Linked DNA regions of Homo sapiens. The protein of the gene in region 1 purifies or fractionates together with the protein of each later gene. This does not show direct contact. Each region holds a gene or a part of one and is shown in the gene's direction. Other genes may lie near its edges.

The links. The genes of interacting proteins can lie anywhere in the genome.
Region 2: the proteins of ELAC2 (region 1) and TSN fractionate together in Homo sapiens (co-fractionation; one large-scale study listed by BioGRID). This does not show direct contact.

Annotation. Positions count from the first base shown.
Region 1 is NC_000017.11:13,001,028-13,004,527, reverse strand, and holds part of ELAC2 (zinc phosphodiesterase ELAC protein 2), read left to right. Parts: intron 1-953; coding exon 954-1,049; intron 1,050-1,948; coding exon 1,949-2,087; intron 2,088-2,168; coding exon 2,169-2,254; intron 2,255-3,500. UniProt on the Homo sapiens protein: Zinc phosphodiesterase, which displays mitochondrial tRNA 3'-processing endonuclease activity. Involved in tRNA maturation, by removing a 3'-trailer from precursor tRNA.
Region 2 is NC_000002.12:121,762,151-121,765,650, forward strand, and holds part of TSN (translin), read left to right. Parts: intron 1-854; coding exon 855-934; intron 935-2,983; coding exon 2,984-3,217; 3' UTR 3,218-3,500. UniProt on the Homo sapiens protein: DNA-binding protein that specifically recognizes consensus sequences at the breakpoint junctions in chromosomal translocations, mostly involving immunoglobulin (Ig)/T-cell receptor gene segments.

The DNA of each region.
Region 1 (3,500 bases):
CTCTGTTGTTGTCCTCTATCGAAGTTAACCAGTTTTGCGGTTCAGCTTTCATTCCAGATGGAATCATCTTTGACCCACCTATCTGAGTTTGAATCTTTTCCCCCACTCTTAATGGTTTACCTGTATTTTTCCTGTTCCTAGTTTGTATCTATCTGTATTTTTTCACTTGTTTTTTTCTACTTACCACAACAAATCCTTTTGGGCTGCTGTACCCCTTCCGAGTCAGAGCGTTAGGAGTTGTTTCATGGTCTGCTTTATTCTCTGTGGGTGAATTTGGATGCGCTGGTAGCCCCGGCTTTGTATTTTAATCCAGTTTTGGGCAGCAAAACCTCTTCAATGAATCAGGTGTCATTTGAGAGCCATGTGTGGATGTGTGATGATGCTGGGATAGATAAAAATAGCTACTGTGTATATTTCTTTTTAAAGGGAACTGGAGGGAAACACATCAGCATGTTAGTAAGTGGTCTGTTGTCCAGGTGGTGAAATTTCAGATGATTTTCATTTCTCGTGCCTGTGTCTCAGGTCCTCTGGAAGGCAGACACCAGGGTGGCATTGGAGGTGCAGGAGGTTTATTCGAGGAAATTTGACTGTGAGAGAGGAAGGAGAGAGGGAGCAGGAGGAGGCAGGGAGAGCCTGGGTCTGGCTTTGCAGGTTGGACCCGTATGAGTGGAGAGGGTAGGAAGGAAGTGCAGTGCTGAGAAAGGATCAGCCAGGCCTACTGGAAAGCCCAGAGCAGAGCTTGCCAGATACAGGAATCCCACGTCCATTGGAAATGGCCCAGCACCGGGGTCTGCCGTGAGCAGCCTGCTGTGAGAGCATGGCCTGGGCGTGGAGGCTGTCAGCTCACTGCAGTGCTGCAGAGGGCCGCACGATACCCCTCCCTGGCTGCGTGGTCCCTGTCTTGGTGTGTCCTGAGTCTGCATCACTTTGTAAAGCCCCACTCTTCTGCCCAGGTACCAAGGAAAGGCAGATGCCCCCGTGGCCTTGGTGGTTCACATGGCCCCAGCATCTGTGCTTGTGGACAGCAGGTACCAGCAGTGGATGGAGAGGTATGGAGCCCAGCCCAGCGGCACTTGGGGTAACTCTTCTGGGCAGTGGTGGATTCCCCTTTCCTCCCCTCGTGCTCTTTCCAGCGCTACCTACCCTTCTGCACCTGCCTAAACTTTCTGTGGGATTCCTGCCTTCCCAGAATTCTAGGCTTCCCAGATCTGTGCTACACTCGTGAAGAAAATGCACCGCTAGGTGGCGCAGTGTCCACACGATTCCATTTATTTTACACCCTCCACACTCTTCAGGGTGTCTGAACAAATACTGCCGTTTGGTTGAGGATTCCATAAGTGAATTCCAAAGAAGAGATTGCAGCTATAAAATGATAGCTTCCATTTACTGAATGCCCACTTTGTGGGAGGCAGTGTGTGAAATACCCTTCATTTCACTTCATTTCCTCTAGGGTCGTCGCCAGCAGCCCTGGGAGGTAGATGTTTAGTCACTGGAAGGCATCTTTTTCCTCGGGGCATCGCTGGCCAGGGCCAGGTGGAGGAGTATGAGTTGAGCTCGGGTGCGGGGTGACCTTGGGCTGCTTTTTGGCCCCTGCCCGTATCTCCCCACATGGCCCGTTTACCTGCCCCTCACTCCATGGCCTGCTCTCCTGCTGTCTCTTTCATTCCTCAGGGTTTGGGTCCCCTATTTGTATGCCCTGGACATCTTCTTTTTCTTGTTTTTCCTCTCACTCTTCCCAGCACACCTGAAAGGCAGCTGAGCTAGGGAACACCGGGCTTTGAGACAGCAGGAGTGGGACCATGTTTGGCCATGTAGTAACACTGCTTGGGGCAAGTCACTGAACTGTTTGAACACCTCATCCTCATTACCACTCCTGAGCTCAGCACCACTCCTCAGGGGGAGCTGCCTCCTAACAGACGCTGCAAATGCCGGGTCTGTTTCTTCACAGGTTTGGGCCTGACACCCAGCACTTGGTCCTGAATGAGAACTGTGCCTCAGTTCACAACCTTCGCAGCCACAAGATTCAAACCCAGCTCAACCTCATCCACCCGGACATCTTCCCCCTGCTCACCAGTTTCCGCTGTAAGGTAGTGTCTCAGACCGGCCCCTTGTCGGCCCAGCTCTCGTCCCCTCTCTTTCTCTCCATGAATGTGTTTTGTCTCTTTCAGAAGGAGGGCCCCACCCTCAGTGTGCCCATGGTTCAGGGTGAATGCCTCCTCAAGTACCAGCTCCGTCCCAGGAGGGAGTGGCAGAGGTCTGTGCCATCTTGAACTAATGGAATCGTCTCAGTCGAGTTGGGAAACATTTCTGTAAATAGCCACATAGTAAATGTTCCAGGAGGCTCTCCAGACCATATGGTCTCTGTTGTAACTATTCAACTCCGCTTTGAGCACAAAAGAAACACGGACAATAAGCTAATGAATGGGCTTGGCTGTGTGCCAGCGTGAATTTATTTAGAAAAGCAGCCTACTCCAGGCTGGGTTGAGGTGGGCGGATTGGGGCCAGTAGTTCTCCTTTTCCAAAATTGCCTTGCATGGGAATAGCAGTGATAGAGCTCGTGTGTTTCACAGTATAGAAAATAGGAAATGTGTGATGAACAAAGTCACCCATAATCCTGTTGCCCAGAGATAATGATTGATAACATTTTGTGTTTCTTGATTTGTGTATGTGGGTTTATATTGTCAGTCTTTTCCTGTATCACTAAACAGTCTTAAGTAACAAGATTTTTATTGGTATTCCAAATAGGGATGTTTACTCATTTGGGATGTTTCCAATTTTTTGTTGTTTTTAATGAATGAAACAATAAATGTCTTATATATAAATCTTTGATGGGAACTCTGTTCCCTTCAAGTCATTCCTAAATGTGGGATTACTGGCCCAGAGTGTGAGACTTGTTAAGGTACTTGATAAATGTAAGATGCCATCTTGAAAGCCTCTTCCAGTACAATCCAACCAGGAAAGTGAACAGCCTTACTGCCCCACATCTTTATTTTAATTAATTAATTTATTTATTTTATTTATTTATTTATTTTTTTGAGACGGAGTTTCACTCTTGTTGCCCAGGCTGGAGTGCAATGGCGTGATCTCAGCTCACTGCAACCTCCGCCTCCCGGGTTCAAGCATTTCTCCTGCCCCAGCCTCCCGAATAGCTGGAATTACAGGCGCCTGCTACCACGCCCGGCTAATTTTTTGTAATTTTAGCAGAGACGGGTTTCACCATGTTGGCAGGCTGGTCTCGAACTCCTGACCTCAGGTGATCCACCCACCTCAGCCTCCCAAAGTGTTGGGATTACAGGCGTGAGCCGTGCCCGGCCTGTTTTAATTTTTAAGGATCTGAACCTTGATTTTAAGTTTCCTGCCCACTCCACAGTATTTGTATTAGAATAGAGCATGTGCTGGATTATGACTGGATGCTGTGTGCTGTTGAGGTTGGGTAGTTGGGGCCCTTTAAGAGACTATACTAGCAAGACTCGGGCCCACAGGCAACATCACGGGGTTGA
Region 2 (3,500 bases), on another chromosome or scaffold:
CCCGGCTAATTTTGTATTTTTAGTAGAGATGAGGTTTCTCCATGTTGGTCGGGCTAGTCTTGAACTCCTGACCTCAGGTGATCCGCCTGCCTCAGCCTCCCAAAGTGCTGGGATTACAGGCGTGAGTGACCGCACTCAGCCAATTTTTTGTATTTTTTTAGTAGAAACAGGGTTTCACCATGTTGGCCAGGCTGGTCTTGAACTCCTGACCTCGTGATTTGCCCGCCTTGGCCTCCCAAAGTGCTGGGATTACAGGCATGAGCCACCACGCCTGGCCTTTTCCCAAATATTTTCTATCCATAGTTGGTTAGCGCAGAGGGCCGACTCTACCTGGAAATGTAAAAGCTAAAAATAACAATGGCAAACACATTTGCACTTGCTTTAGTTTTTAAAATTGAATTTTTAAAAATTTCAAGCCTACAGAAAAATTGAAAGAATAGTACAATGAATACCTGTTTACATGCCACTTAGATTTACCACTTGTTAACATTTTGCTACATCTGCTTAATCTTCTCATTTTGTGTGTGTCTTTGTCAGCCATTTGAAAGTTGCAAATATCGTAACTCCTTTCTGAAATGCTTTATCATGTGCTTTCTAACAAGAAGTATATTCTGTGACACAACTAGATACTGTTTTTGATAGTATTTTTGAGGGAAGACTGAATTGAATTTTGCTTAAGAACTCAAAAAATCCATAGTGAGGTCTAGTTGCCAAGGTTGTGAATATATTAAAAAGCCAGTTTTTAAAAGATTCATCCTTTCTTCACTTACTTTGGGAGAAATTATGTGTATATTTTTATATTCTGAGGCTTAACTTGCATTCACAGCATGACTTTATTTTCATGTGTTTTTTAGTTGAGCCAGATCGGGAGAAAGGATTTCATCTGGATGTAGAAGATTATCTCTCAGGAGTTCTAATTCTTGCCAGTGAACTGGTAAGCTCAGTAACTTGCTGGTTGCTTTTTTGATCTTTCTGCTTCACTGTCAGTTTTTTTTTTTTTTTTTTTTTTTGAGACAGAGTCCCGCTCTGTCGCCTAGGCTGGAGTGCAGTGGCGCAATCTCGGCTCACTGCAAGCTCCGCCTCCCGAGTTCATGCCATTCTCCTGCCTCAGCCTCCTGAGTAGCTGGGACTACAGGCGCCCGCCACCACACCCGGCTAATTTTTTTTTGTATTTTTAGTAGAGACGGGGTTTCACCGTGTTAGCCAGGATGGTCTCGATCTCCTGACCTCGTGATCCGCCCACCTTGGCCTCCCAGAGTGCTGGGATTATAGGCGTGAGCCACTGTGCCTGGCCCACTGTCTGTTTTTAAAATGGGTACCAAAATTCAGAACGTCTTAATTCTTTTCTAAGCCATCTCTCGGTCACCAGGTAGTCACTGACTGGCACTGTATGTGTTACAATTTACTAGGCATCAGAGAAAAGCCAGATCAAATGATGAGTGCATACTTACTGAGTTAAGAATTTTTAACCGATGATAAGACCTCTTCCTTTTAGGGTAGTGGCAAAACATTTATTCCTGGTAACTGTTAATCCATGTAATTGTTTTGGACACTCATTTGTCTATATAACTAAGTTATTCTTATCCTTTATTCCTTTAACCACTATCTAGGGAAATTGCCCTGTAAAAGTCTAAAGAAAAAAAAAGCTGTCAGTAGCAAAATTGAGTAGTTGTGATAGAGACTGTGCCAGTCTGCAGAGGTGAAAATATTTACTATCTGGCTCGTTAAGAAAAAGTTTGCTTGTCCTTGCTCCAGAGGAAAGCAGTCCAGGGCTGGTCTGATGATTCCTTGATCTTTGGCCCTAGGTTCTTCTAGCTTCAGCTTCTTTCTTATGTTCCAGAACTGTTGCTCTAGTCACATCTTCACTCTAGCCAGCAGTAGGAGGAAATAGGGAAAATGGTATGCCCTCCCGCTTTAAGGACATTTCTTTGAAGTTGTACACACAACTTCTGTTAACATTCTGGTGCCTTGCCTGCAGGGAGGCAGAAATGGAGTCTATTGGAGTGGGTATGTGTGCATTGAAAACCTGAGGAAGATGGTGAGAATGGATGATGGGGTCCACTTGTAGGCTGTACCACTTGTCTGGCTTGTTGGAGACACCTGACCAGTAAACAGGAAGCATCTTGTTAGTATTAGTTAAGTGTAAGGTGTCTTTAGGACCATACATGTTGGGGCCGGGCACAGTCGCTTACGCTTGTAATGCTGGCAGTTTTGGAGACCAAGGTGGGAGGATCCCTTGAGGCCAGGAGTTCCACACCAGCCTAAGCAACAAAGCAAGACCCCTTCTCTATATTAAAAACAAACAAACAAACAAAAAACCCGTATGTTGACAGTGCACTAAAGGGGTAAGCCTGGAAAAGTGGAGAGGATTTTACAGAAAGGGGAATCTTTTTTATTATTTTAATATATTTTTTAAAGCCAGTCAAATGGAGCAGTAGGGGGTTGTATACTGACACCGAGAAGGGGAGTCTTGGGTTGGGTCTTGAAATCAATGTTAGTTCTCCTTCAAGACAGGGTTACACTAACATAATTTTAGATTCTTATCCCAAGTCTGCCTTACTTGATTCTAGGTGACTGGAGTTGCAGCTTAGTAGGTGGGCTCTAGAAATGTGATCATTTGGCCAAGGTTGGAAGAGGTAGTGGAGCTGCTGTGATTATTTTGTCGTTTCTTTCTTCGATATGATAGCAGATGAGCTGTAAAGATGCTTGTGTAATGTAACACTTTATTATGCAATAGCCAGTTTAAGAAATTAGAGAAATTTTAGATGTTAGTAATGTTAAATTTTACTTGGCAGAACTGGTCTCATTTTCAGTGGGATTCTTTTCAGAGAAGCTCCTGTCTTGTCTGTACTTGTGTGTACCCTGAGATAGAAGATCAGCGTGGCTGTCTAGGCTTGCGGTTCTTCTGGTTGTGATTCAGAGGAAGATGCGCTGAGAAGGAGCCATGTTGTAACAAGCCCCTGTTTTCTCTTTCCTGGTACAGTCGAGGCTGTCTGTCAACAGCGTGACTGCTGGAGACTACTCCCGACCCCTCCACATCTCCACCTTCATCAATGAGCTGGATTCCGGTTTTCGCCTTCTCAACCTGAAAAATGACTCCCTGAGGAAGCGCTACGACGGATTGAAATATGACGTGAAGAAAGTAGAGGAAGTGGTCTATGATCTCTCCATCCGGGGCTTTAATAAGGAGACGGCAGCAGCTTGTGTTGAAAAATAGGAGGCTCTCCTTGCTCCTGGCCTTGCTGACCTCAGCGGTTGCCAGGAAGGGGTGAGCACAGAGTGCCTCTTACGGTAGTTAGGATGCTCAGTTGCTAAACACTGCGCTTTATTTTCTTAACCAGTTGTGGTGTGAGTATCAGAATTGAAACACTTTTTTGGGGGTAAAAAATATAGCCTTTACATGGACAGAATTTTTTTTGTTGTTTCAGTGAATATGCCTGTAATTCAGTGTATTTCAGTTCCGTCAGAAAGTGTAAATGTTAGTTTCTTGGTAAAGTCCT